Homo sapiens: one gene and its partner. The protein of the gene in region 2 purifies or fractionates together with the protein of the main gene of each other region. This does not show direct contact. Each region holds a gene or a part of one and is shown on either strand. Other genes may lie near its edges.

Evidence for each region. Proteins that work in one complex are often made in the same cells at the same time.
Region 1: the proteins of DOHH (region 2) and EIF5A purify together in Homo sapiens (affinity purification with mass spectrometry; 3 studies listed by BioGRID and IntAct, with this or other methods). This does not show direct contact.

What each region holds. Positions count from the first base shown.
Region 1 is NC_000017.11:7,303,571-7,311,028, reverse strand, and holds the start of EIF5A (eukaryotic translation initiation factor 5A-1), read right to left. Parts: upstream 3,402-7,458; 5' UTR 3,277-3,401; intron 3,061-3,276; exon of another isoform or gene 2,896-3,060; intron 2,657-2,895; exon of another isoform or gene 2,454-2,656; intron 2,059-2,453; exon of another isoform or gene 1,914-2,058; intron 1,415-1,913; coding exon of another isoform or gene 1,394-1,414; coding exon 1,229-1,393; coding exon of another isoform or gene 742-1,228; exon of another isoform or gene 18-741; intron 12-17; coding exon 1-11. UniProt on the Homo sapiens protein: Translation factor that promotes translation elongation and termination, particularly upon ribosome stalling at specific amino acid sequence contexts.
Region 2 is NC_000019.10:3,497,629-3,505,290, forward strand, and holds the start of DOHH (deoxyhypusine hydroxylase), read right to left. Parts: upstream 3,047-7,662; 5' UTR 2,933-3,046; exon of another isoform or gene 2,307-2,932; intron 1,379-2,306; exon of another isoform or gene 1,111-1,378; intron 1-1,110. UniProt on the Homo sapiens protein: Catalyzes the hydroxylation of the N(6)-(4-aminobutyl)-L-lysine intermediate produced by deoxyhypusine synthase/DHPS on a critical lysine of the eukaryotic translation initiation factor 5A/eIF-5A.

The DNA.
Region 1 (7,458 bases), on a different chromosome or scaffold from region 2:
ACCAGATGGACCTGTATGTATGCATCACAAAGAGAAACCCAACCAAACTCTAAAACGGAGGAAATAAAGGCTCAAATTGACCTTGCCTGATGAGGGAAGTCAGAATTACATTGTTGGGGCAAAGACTGGAGTGTTGGAATTGAACCAGTCAACTCAAGAAACAGTAAAGCCTCTTAAAGAAAAAAAACAGAGGCTAAAAAACCACCGTTGAGATTGGGGTTGACAGCACAATAGAAAACTGCATGGCAGGCTTGGAGAAGACAGTTACCTTGATAAAAGATAAGATGCTAAGAGTCTAGGGGAGTGGGAGGAGTCTGAGTAAAAGTTTCGAAGAGTTTTCCGGACACCAGGAGAAGGAGCTGAGAAACTGGGGAATAAGGAAGGTAGAAGGGAAAGGATAAGAAACTAAGAAATGTGAAAGAGCTGAAGAAAAGGACTTGCAGGGAGATCAGAAATAACTATGTAGCTAGAAAATAAGGAAGCCAGAAGAGCACAGAGAGGGATCCAGACACTAGAGAATAATCCAAGATCAATGTCAAGTCAAAAGATGGAAAAACTGATTAAGGAAAAACACCACAAGAAATTCAACAAGAACGAATCAGGTTGAAATTCTAAAGAGACAGGAAAAGTCTGAGGTGATGAGGGAAGTGCTAGCAAGAATGTTAAAACCCATGAAAGCATGGAGGCTCAAGGAACCCAAGGAGAGTGGGATGGGGCAGGTAGGGGCAGTTTGATCCTGCGTCAGAGTTCCAAAGGGAAAGCTAGAACTGGGGAACGAAGCAGCAAGGTGACCTGAAAGCTCAGAATTGACGCAGGAGTCCCTCCAGGGGAAGGCGTAGAATTGGAGAAACCCTGGGCAACGTGATGGAAGCAACCACTTAACAACGGCTCAAGGGAAGAAAGAAAAAGTGAAAACCAAGAATAAGGAAGGAGCAACTGAATAGCTAGAGCATAAAGGCCTATGAATTGAAGAGATTGGCACAAAGCTGGAGAAACGGAGGGACTGCCAGAGAATGATGCGGGGACAGAAGGGTAACCACAGAAGAGGCTGAAGACTGGGGAGCAGGTGTAGTTGTCTGAATGGGTATGAAGGCTGAGCGCTAAACAAAAACAATCAGACAGTAAAAGCAGAGTTAAAGGAAAGTCAGCACTGTTGGCAGCTTGCTGCTGGGAGCGCCAAAGATACTGGAGGCATGGGGAAGGCAAGATGCGGAGGTGAAATTCTAACCTTGGCGTGGCCGTGCTTGCCAGTCTTCGAAGTAGACATCTCGACGATCTTACATGGCCGGCCTTTGAGCACCACAAAGCCATTCTTACGTAATGCTGAGCACTGCATTGGGAAGGTGGCTGAGGCCCCTGCATCTCCTGTCTCGAAGTCCAAGTCATCTGCCATTTTAAGAGGCTTCGATTCCAACTAGAGCCAAGAAGAGAACTGAAGTGAATAAGCATGGAGGTCAACAGGACCTCCAATCTATCCCATTTCTCTCCAGAAACATTTTCCCAACTCTTTATTCCATTACCCACCTAAAATAAAGTCAAAGTTCCTGAACTTAAAATACTGACTGGGCTCAAATATACTCAAGAACTGGTGTGTGTATGGGAGGGTGGAATAGCTGGTTTCTCCCCCATAAATCAAAGCTAAAGTGGTGGCTTGGGAAAGGAAGGCTCTAGGGAGCTGGAATGTCAAATCTCAGAGATGAGAAAAGGCCTACTTCCTGGGAGTGGGGAGGACTCAGGTGTTACTTGCCACTGAAACCAACCACCCCTCTTCCCCACATATAGCCAGGGCTATAATTAGGTGAGCAGCTATGATCCAGCAAAAGGGCAGGGCTAATTGGGGGGGGGGAGGGTGGAGACCGGAGGACAAGGCCCCACCCATCTGTTACACTGCCCCCCCCCATCCACACACAAACCAGTCACTGCTACAGGAAACCACAAGGCCTCTTTGGGGGATTCCCGCCTCGCCAACATGCACTTGCAACAAGCCAAGGGGGAGAAAGCAAAGTTGTTTCCGAAATGATCCCCCTGCCAAACACCTCGATCTTGGTTCCCAAAGAGAACCCAGGAACCCAGCCTCTCCTGGAAGGCCCTCCCACTTTTCCCAGGATGCATCTGTCCTGTCGGCTTTTCAGGCCGGGCCAGTACAGTCAGTAGAAAGTGGGAGAGGTGGGGGGTGGTGAATGACAATAAAATGAAAGCAAAAGGTTGGTAGTAGTGAGTAGTAGAAAATCATACTAGGCTAGTAGAGTTAAGGACTTCGAAACCGTGGAACTCCCAAACCAGTTACAACAGGAAGACAGTGACAAGGTGAAGAACGCCTATCACGGTGGGAAACTCATCTGCCTGAGGCTTTTAGGCGCTGTCCACCCAGGCCGACAGAAAAGTTGGGCTCCTGTCCAAACGCCCTGTTTCCCCATTTCTCCGGCCTCCCAGCTCGAAGGGGTGCCACTTACACCTGGCTGACCGCCACACTTCACAGGAGGGTTTTTCAGGAAAGCTCCTGGGGCCCTTGAGGTTGGGAAGCGCTAACATATGCCTGCAGCAGGCCCTCCGGGGTGATTAGGACCCGAGCCTCCGGCTTCCACTCCTCAAAATCTCAGGCCCCCTCGGAACCCCCGCGAGGACTAGCTCCCCGCGCTAGGGGCTGCCGGCTCCTGCCGACCATGTGGCCGTTCCGGGCTTCCGGTGGCCGGGACCTGGGGGGAGGGGTCCCCGCGCTGCCATGCGGCCCCGGTCCACGCTTGGCCATGCGGCCTGCGACCCCGAGGGCAGCCTCCCGTGGGGGGCACTTCCGGTGCCGCGGCCGCCCCCTCCTCAGAGACTGCGCCAGGCCGGAGCCACGCCGCCTCCCCTCCCCCCGGCCGTCCGCCAACCCCCCCCATCATGCCCTCTCACCGAATAGCCCCCTCCCCCACCTCACGTGGCCGCGCTGAGCCGGGTCCTCAACGGCCCAGGTACCCTTGCCCCGGTGGGCCGATCTGGCCCCTGGCCCTCGCCCCGGCGTGGCCGCCTGGCGGCCTCTCCCGCGTGGCTGCCTCGCGGCTCGCCGTCCCCCGCCCTGCGTCGCTCCAACGTCACCGGGCCAACCCCAACCGTCACCCCGCGCGCCAACCGGGGCGCGCGCCCGCGCCTCTCCTCACCTCGCGCCGCTCTCTGGCCGAACCCGTGCGGCGGCGGCCGCCGCTCCCCTCTGCCCCCTCCCCGACCCCCGCGCAGTTCCATCTTCTCCCGGGCCCAAGCCAAGGTACCGCGCACACGCGCCCTGCCCGCTCTCACCTCGCGCGAACGCACTGACTCGACCCCGTCCGCTCGCCGCGAGCCCAACCGCTGCCTCCGAGCCCGCTGCCGCCGCCGCCGCCGCCTCTACCGCCGCCGCCGCTGCTGCACACGGGTCTTAGTACGCAGGCGCCGACTCCCCACTGACCAACCAAGCAGCCCTATGACAGCCGCGCAAGCGTGCTATCTATCTCCTCCGCCCTCCACCCCCGCACTGCGCAAGCGCACACACCCTACCCATCTCCACCCTCCCTCCCACCGACCCGTCCAATGACGCGCATACGTGACCCCGCCCCTCACAAACCCTGAGCGTTTTCAACTAATCTGCAACGCGCAGGCGCACCCGGTTTTTTAATCTCTTCAACCTCATCTTCCCTCCCCTTGATAGACCGCTCGTCCTACCGGGCAGTCCTTGCGCCTGCGCAATAAGGAGCCCTGCACTCCACACCCTCTAAAGGAAACGCCTGGGTCTCAGAACGCATGCGTGTTCGGAATCCTAAACAACCCCTTCCACCTCAGACGCCGTCAGTACGCCAGGCGTTGAAAAGACCACGCCGCTAGATCACTTGTCTCGTCTAGAACGCATGCGTCTCAGGATACGCCCCACCTCGGCTTTAACTGGACTTAAACGACTCACACGTTTCAGAAAACTTGCTCTGTGGGGTGGGCGCCTTGTCTTGGAATCAGTCCCCCCAGTTCCACACATGCGCGGGAGATGTCTTTCCGCCCCACTCTTCTAGCGCGCTAGTGTGGTCGGGTTCCCACCCATCTCGGCTTCACTTCTCTAAATCGAATGCCTATGCTCTGCCATAGAGTTCACCCGAGAAGATAGAGCGGTCCTGCGGCGGACACCATCTTCTTTAAACCCTCAGTCCGTATTGGTCTCTATGGCATCCATAGAGGCCATTCGGCTCTGAGGTCCTCAGTAAAGAAACTTAGATGGTATTACTGTGTTTTCCCCAACTGTGCTCTGCGGTTCCCCAAAGTATTGTCTACGAGGTCCCTTAGAAAAAATTGTCTATAAAAATGAGTGGTGGGCCGGGCGCGGTGGCTGACACCTGTAATCTCAGCACTCTGGGAGGCCGAGGCGGGCGGATCACCTGAGGTCGGGAGTTCGAGACCAGCCTGACCAACATGGAGAAACCCCGTCTCTACTAAAAATACAAAATTAGCCGGGCGTGGCGGCGCATGCCTGTAATCCCAGCTACTCGGGAGGCTGGGACAGGAGAATCGCTTCTCCTGTGGAGGTTGCCGTGAGCCGAGATTGCGCCATTGCACTCCAGCCTGGGTAACAAGAGCGAAACTCAAGTCTCAAAAACATAAATAAATAATACATAAATAAAATAAAATAGTGGTAGGCCGGGAGCGGTGGCTCACGCCTGTAATCCCAGCACTTTGGGAGGCCGAGGCGGGCGGATCACAAGGTCAGGAGTTCAAGACCAGCCTGGCCAACGTAGTGAAACCCCCGTCTCTACTGAAAATACAAAAAAATTAGCCGGGCGTGGAGGTGGGCGCCTGTACCAGCTACTCGGGAGGCAGAGGCAGGAGAATCGCTTGAACCCAGGAGGCGGAGGTTGCAGTTAGCCGACATCGCACCACTGCACTCCAGCCTAGGAGACACAGCGAGAGACTCTGTCTCAAAAAAAAAAAAAAAAAAAAAAAAGTGGTATGTTAGATTACATTGACATTGTCTTAATCATAGGAGACCATGAAGCTGGAGACGAGCTATCTTCCCAACTTTATTTTCTTTGCCCTCCCTCTCTCCGCCCCCCATTTCGCTTTTCCTGAAACTTCGTAGTCTTCTTCCAATTCCTGGGTTTCTTGCACTACCTTCATGGCTGCCTTGTTGGATAACAAGACTGAAACAAGCGGCCAGGCGCAGTGGCTCACACCTGTAATCCCAGCACTTTGGGAGGCCAAGGCGAGCAGATCACTTGGGTCAGGAGTTCCAGACCAACCTGGCCAACATGGTGAAACCCCGTCCCCACTAAAAATACAAAAATTAGCCGTGCCGTGGTGGTGCGTGCCTGTAATCCCAGCTACTCGGGAGGCTGAGGCAGGAGAATCGCTTGAACCCAGAATGTGGAGATTGCAGTGAGCCGAGATCTCGCCAATGCACTCCAGCCTGCACGACAGAGCAATACGCCATCTCAAAAAAAAAAAAAAAAAAAAAAAGACAGAAACAAGCGACCAAAGATCTTGGGATCTCATCCTTCTTTTGTGTCTTTAAGGAATTACTTCAGATAGCTCTGCCTTAATTTTCTTCCCATAAAATGAGAATAATAATGATGCCTGAACTTCCCAATTTTTCAGGACGTTGCAAAAATTCTGCAACATGGGTTGGGCATAGTGGCTCATACCTGTAGTCTTAGCTTTTTGGGAGGTCAAGGTGGGAGGCTCCCGTGAGGCTAGCAGTTACAGACCAGACTGGGCAACATAACAACGGCCCATCTCTACAAATAAAAAATTAAAAAAACAAAAACAAGAAAAGCTCAGCTCAGTGGCTGGTGCCTGTAGACCTAGCTACTCTTTCTTGGGAGGCTGAGGTGGAGGGATAGCTTGAGTCTAGGAGTTCGAGGCTTCATTGAGCTATAATCCCCACCACTGCACTTGAGCCTGGGCAACAGAGAACCTGTTTCTTAAAAAAGAAAAAAAAAAAGTCTTGTGACACGATACATGTGAACTGCAAACACTAGATTGAATTACTACATTTGTGTAGCCTGTTATGCTAACCCCCAGCTACTTCCCCTCAATTTTCTGAAATTCATGCCCTTTCCTTTGTAAAAAAAAAAAACAAAAACAAAAACAAAAAAACGCAAACAACTTTGTGAGTACATTGTTCAAAAGTCCAACACCTGCTTTTCTCAAAGCAAAGTATGTATTGTTCATGTGACCCAGCAATTCCACTCCAACGTATATATACTCCCAATGAATTAAAAACAGGTACTCAAAGAAAATCCGGGCCGGGTGCGGTGGCTCACGCCTGTAATCCCAGCACTTTGGGAGGCCGAGGCGGGCGGCTCATGAGGTCGGGAGATGGAGACCATCCTGGCTAACACGGTGACACCCCGCCTCTACTAAAAATAAAAAAATTAGCCGGGCCTGGTTGTGGGCGCCTGTAATCCCAGCTATTTGGGAGGCTGAGGCAGGAGAATGGCAAACCTGGGAGGTGGAGCTTGCAGTGAGCTGAGATCTCGCCACTGCACTCCAGCCTGGGCAACAGAGCAAGACTCCATCTCAAAAAAAAAAAAAAGCAAATCCGGGCATGTGAGTGTTCATTAGCAGCAGTTATTCACAGTAGCAAAAAAGGTGGAAAGAACCCAAATGTCTGTCAATAGATGAATGGATTTTTAAAATGTGGTATATCTATACAGTGGAATATTATTTAGCCATAAAAAGAGATGAAGTACGTGCTATAACTGGATGAATATTGGAAAACATTATGCTAAGTGAAAAAAGTCAAGATGCAAAAGGTCACATATTCTATGATTCCACTCTTAGAAAACATCTAGAATAGCCGGGCGCAGTGGCTCACGCCTGCAATCCCAACACTTTGGGAGGCTGAGACGGGTGGATCACCTGAGGTCGGGAGTTTGAGACCAGCCTGACCAACATGGAGAAACCCCATCTCTACTAAAAATACAAAATTAGCCTAGTGTGGTGGCGCATGCCTGTAATCCCAGCTACTCAGGAGGCTGAGGCAGGAGAATAGCTTGAAGCAGAGGTTGCAATGAGCCGAGATCATGCCGTTGTGCTCCAGCCTGGGCAACAAGAGCAAAACTCCATCACACACACACAAAAATTAACCAGGCGTGGTCATATGTACATGTAGTCCCAGCTACTGGGGAGGCTGAAGCAGGAGGATTGCCTGAGCTTAGGAGTTCAAGGCTGTAGTGAGCTGTGATCACACCACTGCACTCCAGCCTGGGTAACAGAGTAAAACCCTGTCAAAAAAAAAAAAAGAAGAAAAGAAAAAAACAGAAATGTTGTACATAAATGTTCAAAGCAACATTATTACTTTTTTTTTTTTTTGAGACGGATTCTTGCCCTGTCACTCGAGCTGGAGTGCAGTGGCACGATCTAGCTCACTGCAACCTCCGCCTCTCGGGTTCAAGCGATTCTCCTGCCTCGGCCTCCTGAGTAGCTGGGATTACAGGCACCTGCCACCACGCCTGGCTAATT
Region 2 (7,662 bases):
TTTTTGTTTGTTTTTGAGACAGGATCTTGTTCTGTCGCCAGGCTGGAGTACGGCAGCATGATCACGGCTCACTGTAGCCTCGAACTCCCAGTCTCAAGTGATCCTCCTGCCTCAGACTTCCTAGTGGCTGTGTCTACAGGCACACACCAGCATGCCCAGCTAATTTTTTTTTTATTATTTGTAGAGATGGGGTCTCACTTCTATGTTGCCCAGGCTGGTCTCCAACTCCCAAGCTCAAGTGATCATCCTGCCTCAGCCTCCCAAAGCATTAGGATTACAGGCATCAGCCACTACCCCCAGCCATTATGGGGATTTTTGTTACACAGCTTAGATAACAGATTCAGAAGTACTTTCAATATGTAAACTGGACCATATCACTCCCTTGCTTAAAATCCTCCTATGCCTCCTCACTCAACTACTTGACAGTCCCAAAGGCCCTTCATGACCATCTCCCATCACCTCTTCCCTCTCTAGCTCCACTCCAGCCACACAGGCCTCCTCGCTGTTCCTCCAACACGCCAGGCCCAGTGCAGCCCTAGGGCCTTTGCATTTGCTGTGATCTCCATGAGGAACATTCTTCCCTAGATGTCCCCACGTAGCAGGCCAGGCCTCACTAACACAGGCCTCCATAACTGTTTCAGCACTGACTGAGTGGTTAAGTTAAACATTAAAAGCTAAAAGAGCCAGTGCCCTCATACAAAGGCTGGAATGTAACAAAAGCCCATGAAGAGTTTTGCCCAGGCCTTTCCTGGGCCTTAAGGCATGACAAGATAATGAAGGAATTTTTTTTTTTTTGAGACAGAGTTTCGCTCTTTTGCCCAGGCTGGAGTGTAGTGGCATTATCTCGGCTCACCACAACCTATGCTTCCAGGGTTCAAGTGATTCTCCTGCCTCAGCCTCCCGAGTATCTGGGATTATAGGCATGCACCACCATGCCCGGCTAATTTTGTATTTTTAGTAGAGACAGGGTTTCTCCATGTTGGTCAGGCTGGTCTCGAACTCCCAACCTCAGGTGATCCACCCGCCTCAGCCTCCCAAACTGCTGGAATTACAGGCTTGAGCCACCACACCCAGCCAATAACGAAGGAATTCTTAATGTGACCCGTTTAGGATGAAACAAGTTTTACTGGGTGTCTGAAGAACTCCCCAAACCTCCATGATTTAGCAGGAGACAAGATAAGGATGATCACCCCAGCACCTGGACCCACTGGAGATGAGATAAGGGTGATCACCCCAGCACCTGGACCCATTTAGATTAAGTAAATTTACTGAGGTTCCAAAGGAAAGTCTTCAGGATTCAGATCTTAGTTATAGATTAAAAGAAGTTAGTCACTTTAAGTCTTTAGATGGATGCTCAGTTACATGTAGATGGAGAGCTTAGAGGGTATATAAGCTCTGGAAAACTTTGTCATTTTGAGTTGGTCTGGCGATATTTTCCAGGCCTTCTCCCTGTAACCGGTTACAGAAATAAAAACTCTCTTCCTCCCCAGTTAATCTGCATCTCGTTATTGGACCATGAGAAATAGCAGCCCGACCCTCAGTTTGGTCCAGGAACACCCGTGCTCATCCTCTTGCTTTCCTGGGTCTCCAACATCACTTCCTCATGGAAGCCTTCCCTGATCACAATGGACAATGTTACTCTTCCATCTCTTTTCACTTATTCAGCTTTATTTTTCTCCACGGCGCCTAAGACTCCTAGATATCATATTGGAAAGTATTGGTTTAGTTGCTTGTGATTGGTCTTATCCCTCATTAGAATAGAACTCTGAAGGCTGGGACTGAGTCTATCTTGGTCACTGTTGTATTCCCAGCACTTAGTGCAATGACCTGCACGCAGTAGGGCCTCAATAAAAACAATAACCGGCTGGGCGCGGTGGCTCACGCCTGTAATCCCAGCGCTTTGGGAGGCCGAGGTGGACAGACCATCTGAGTTCAGGAGTTCGAGACCAGCTGACCAACATGGTGAAACCCCATCTCTACTAAAAATACAAAAATTAGCTGGGCGTGGTGGTGGGCGCCTGTAATCCCAGCTACTCGGGAGGCTGAGGTAGGAGAATCGCCTGAACTCGAGAGGCGGAGGTTGCAGTGAGCCGAGATCGTGCCATTGCATTCCAGACTGAGCTACAAAGCAAGACCCTGTCTCAAAATAAATAAATAAAATAAAAACGACAACCGTGACAATAGCAGCTGACACTTATGTAGCATTTGCTACGCGCCAGGCACTCCATGCTCTTTACATTCATTAATTCATTCGATCTACATCACTACCCTGTGAGGTAGTTACTAAGATTGTCCCCATTTTACAGGTGAGGAAACTGAGGCACAGTTTGGGACTGTGCTTGGGAACTTGCTTGGGAGCAGCGTGAAGAGTTAGGAATCCAGGAAGTCTGGCTCCAGAGTCGGGCTCTAAACCACCAACGCTTTGTTGAATGACTTAGGATAAAAGAACACAGCCAAGGGGAGAAGGGACCCCTCTCTTTCCAGATCGGCTGAGAACCTGGCGGATGCTTCATCTCAAGACAGGCTGGCTATGGCATGCTGGCAGCCCTCTCTGGTGAACAGTGGCGTCAGCAAGGCTGCCTGGGCTTGACGAGGGCAGTGTAGCCACCTAAGCACAGGTGACCATCAAAGGAGAGTGACACCTTTAAAGAGGGGTCATCAGAAACCAGAGGGCAGGCCTGTGCGAGCTGGCAGGGCACTGGGGACCATTGAGACCCAACCGTACGACATAGGAGCTTCAGGACGTGAGGTGGGCACTCTTTCATGTAAAAAATCCCAGAGGAAAGAGATCGCCGGGACTCGAGACCCCTTAACCCGCCCCATCCACAGTCAACGAATCCCTGAGACCGGATTCCCTAACGAGGCGCTCCCGGTGCCACCGCCCGCCAGACCCGGGCCCCACACCGTGATCGCCGCCTCCGGGACGCCTCACCGAGCTCTGGAGACTCAGGACCCGTCGGCCCGGCCAGTAACCGCAGGCGCCTCTGCCACCACCGCTTCACCTGCCGCGACGCCCGCAGTGCGGTCTGGGGGCCGCCATTTTCTCGCCCACGTGACCGTGCCGGACGGCACCAACGCAGCCGCGGGTGAGACCTAGTGAGAGGCTCCGTGCATGAGGGAGGCCCGGAAGGCTGAGTCGGTGCTGGTGCCACAGCTCATGCAAACGCAGGAACAGTATTCCTAGTGCGTTCTTCGGGGAAGGGGACGGGCAACGTATGCCCTTTCATGGGAAAAAATTCTCTCCAACCTCCCCACTGCGGTACAAGAAGTGAGACTGGTTTGTGCCGATTCAGCGCCCTGCCTGGGCTGGCTAGCAACGGAGCATGCGCAGTGTTTCTAGGCGTGGTCAGACTCCAGAGGTGTTGGCCAATGGGCTCAGGGAGCTCGAACCTTAAGTAGGTGAGGAATAAAAAAAGGAAGAAATGCAGTCGTTCATTCATTCATGTATGTAATAAATAGTACATGGCCTTGAGGACAAGAGAGCCTTCAGCCCTTACCCTCGTACGCCTCCCAGTGTTGTTATAGAGACAGAAAATAACACGATAAGTAAATGCAATACCTATTAGATGGTGAAAAAGGCTAACGAGAAAAAATTCGGTAGCCAAGGGCGGTGTATGTATAGGGTGTGCAGTTTCAGGAAGGGTGGCCAGAATCTGAGGTGGTGACATCTGAAGAAAGACCTGAAAGAGGCCGGGTACGGTGGCTCACACCGGTAATCCCAACACTTTGGGAGGCCGAGGTGGGTGTTATCACTTGAGGTCAGGAGTTCGAGACCAGCCTGGCCAACATGGTGAAACCCCCATCTCTACTAAAAATACAAAAAGGCTTCAGCTTCCCGAGTAGCTGGGATTACAGGCATGCAACACCACACCAGCTAACTTTTTGTATTTTTAGTAGAGACAGGGTTTCACTATGTTGGCCAGGCTGGTCTCAAACTCCTGACCTCAGGTGATCCACCTGCCTTGGCCTCCCAAAGTGCTGGGATTACAGGCGTGAGCTACTGTGCCCTGCTTGCAATCTCTTATTTTTAAAATGTGGGTGACTGCCAGGAGTGGTGGCTCATACCTGTAATCCTGGCACTTTGGGAGGCTGTGGGGTGAGAGGATGATCGATTGAGCCCAAGATTCCAAGACCAGCCTGGGCAATGTGGTAAGCCCCCGTCTCAACAGAAAAAAAATTTTTTTTAATTTGGCTGGGCGCAGTGGCTCAGCCTGTAATCCCAGCTACTTGGGTGGCTGAGGCAGGAGAATCGCTTGAGCCTGGGAGACACAGGTTACAGTGAGTTGAGATCCTGTCACTGCACTCCAGCCTGGGCAACAGAGCAAGACTCCATTTCCAAAAAAAAAAAAAAAAAATCAACTGTGCCTGGTGGCTCATGCCTGTAGGCCCAGCTACTCAGGTGGCTTGATAGCTTGAGTCCAGGAGTTCAAGGATCCAGTGAGCTGTAATCACACCACTGGATTCCAGCCTGGGTGACAGAGCAAGACCCCATCTCAAAAAAAAAAAAAAAATGAGCAATTAATAAAAAAACATGGCTGGGCATTGTAGCTCACGCCTGTAATTCCAGCACTTTGGGAGGCCAAGGCAGGTGGATCACTTGTGGTCAGGAGTTCAAGACCAGCATGGCCAACATGCTGAAACCCCATCTCTACTAAAAATACTAAAATTAGCTTGGCCTAGTGGCGGGTGCCTGTAATTCCAGCTACTCAGGAGTCTGAGGCAGGAGCATCACTTGAACCCAGGAGACGGAAGTTGCAGTGAGCCAAGATCGCGTCACTGCACTCCAGCTTGGGTGACAGAGTGAGACTCCATCTCAAAAAAATAATTAAATAAAAATTAATGAAAAAACATAAAATGCTGTGCATAGCAAAGAAATCCTTTTGGAAGGCCAACTTCTATTTTAAGACAACATTCACAAATACTTATTGAGCAACTACTGTGTGCTGGACAGTGTCCTGAGCACAGAGGATAGTGTCCTGGGCACAGAGGACACAGGACAAAACAGACACAGTGTCTGGCCTCATGGAGCTGACACCCCCACTTTTATTTTTTTGAGACAGAGTCTCGCTCTGTCACCCAGGCTGGAGTGCAATGGGGCGATCTCAGCTCACTGCAAGCTCCGCCTCCTGGGTTCACGCCATTCTCCTGCCTCAGCCTCCCAAGTAGCTGGGACGACAGGTGCCCACCACCAAGCCCAGCTAATTTTTTTGTATTTTTAGTAGAGACGGGGTTTCACCGTGTTAGCCAGGATGGTCTCGATCTCCTGACCTCGTGATCCGCCCGCCTCGGCCTCCCAAAGTGCTGGGATTACAGGCGTGAGCCACCGTGCACGGCCCACCCCCCCTTTTTTTTTTTAAATTATTGTATTGCCTTCCTATGTGTTGGAAAACTGACTGCAGATAACAGGCATCACTGCAGCCCTCAGCTGCCTTGCGAGGACGTCATCTCAACATGTTTGTGGCTCAGGCTGTTTACGGAGGACTTCCCGTGGACCAGGAGCTGTGCTGACTCAGGAAGGCTACGAGGGCAGGGTGCCAGGTGTGACTGGCCCCAAGGATGCTCCCCAGGAGGAGATAATCCCAGGGTGCAGGACGCAGATATCGAAGCCTCAGCCAAAAGCAAGGCCTGTGTAAGTCAGAGAACTTGGCATCTGGCCTCTGTAGACCTTCGAGAAACTGATAGCACAGAAGAACCAAGTCTGCGTCTTCTGTTCGGTGGGTCCTCTGGGATTGAGCAAGTCCCTGGGGGGCGGAAGTCTGGAATCCAGGTATCTGCAGATCTGTGGCCTCTCTGGAGGCTCCAGGGGAGGATCCTTCCTGCCTCTTCCAGCTTCTGGGGGTGGCCGCCAGTCCTTGGTGTTTCTCAGCTTGTGGCTTCGTCACTCCAATCTCTGCCACTGTCATCACCTGGCCTTGACCCCTGTGTGTCTGTCTCTGTGTTTCTGTGTTAGAATCTCCCTCTCCTCTCCTTTTATTTTATTCTTCTGAGACAGAGTCTTGCTGTGTTGCCCAGGCTGGAGTGCAGTGGCGCGATCTCAGCTCACCGCAACCTCTGCCTCCCGGGTTCCAACGATTCTCCTCCCTCAGCCTCCCGAGTAGCTGGGAATACAGGGGCCTGCTACCATGCCCGGCTAATTTTTGTATTTTTAGTAGAGATGAGGTTTCACCATGTTGGCCAGGCTGGTCTTGAAGGCCTGACCTCAAGTAATCTGCCCACCTCGGCCTACCAAAGTGCCGGGATTACAGCCGTTAGTCACTGCGCCCAGCTCCTCTTTCAGATCTTTATTAAAACATCATCTTTGCAATAAGAGCATCCCCGAGCACTGCATCTGAAACTGTAACCTCTTGCCTCCTCCTTTTCCCTGTTCTCTTTTCTCCTTAACTCAGCTCCAAAGGGGATTTTTTTTTTTTTTTCTGGAGTGCAGTGGTGCAATCTCGGTTCACTTCAACCACCGCCTCCCGGGTTCAAGGGATTCTCCTGCCTCAGCCTCCCGAGAAGCTGGGATTACAGGCGCGTGCTACCACGCTCAGCTAATTTTTGTATTTTTAGTAGAGATGAGGTTTCGCCATGTTGACCAGGATGGTCTCGATCTCTTGACTTCATAATCCGCCCTCCTTGGCCTCCCAAAGCACTGGGATTATAGGCGCAAGCCACTGCGCCGGGCAAGAACTTTTTAAATAACAGCTGTATTGAGATATAGTTTACATACTGTACAATTCATCTGTGTAAAGTGATAATTCAGTGGTGTTTAGTATATTCAGAGTCGGGCAGCCATCATCACATAAATTTTTTTTTTTTTTTTCCGAGACGGAGTCTTGCTTTGACACCCAAGGTGGAGTGTGGTGGCATGATCTGGGCTCACTGCAACCTACACTTCCCGGGTTCAAGTGATTCCCCTGCTTCAGCCTCCCGAGTAGCTGGGACTACAGGTGCGCGCCAGCACACCCGGCTCATTTTTGTATTTTTAGTAGAGATGGGGTTTCACCAGATTGGCCAGGCTGATCTTGAACTCCTGACCTCAAGTGATCTGCCCGCCTCAGCCTCCCAAAGTGCTGGGATTACAGGTGTGAGCCACAGCTCACGGCCATCACATCAATTTTAGAACATATCCATCAACCCCCCAAAATAAAGTCCATTCCAGTCACTCCTGATCCCCCTCTCCCAGCCCTTGGCAACCACTAATCCACTTCCTGTCTCTATGGATTTGCTTATCTGGACATTTCGTATCAATGGAATCACTCACTATGTGGTCTTTTGTATCTGGCTTCTTTCACTGGGCATGATGCTTTCGAGGTTCATCCAATCTGTAGCCTGTGTCCGAGCCTCATTGCCTCATATTGCAAAACACCGTGTCATTGTATGAATGGAGCATTTTCCCTTCATCTGTGGATGTACATTTGGGTTGTGTGCACTTTGTGGATGTTATGAATAAAGCTGCTATGCACATAGGTGTGTGAGTTTTTGCGTGGATGTTACATGTTTGTTTCTCTTGGGTAGATACCTAGGAGTGTTACTGCTGTGTCATGTGGCAATTCTATGTTTAACCTTTTTTTTTTTTTTTTTTTTTTTGAGACTGAGTCTTGCCCTGTTGCCTAGGCTGGAGTACAATGGTGCGATCTTGGCTCACTGCAACCTTTGCCTCCCGGGTTCAAGCAATTCTCC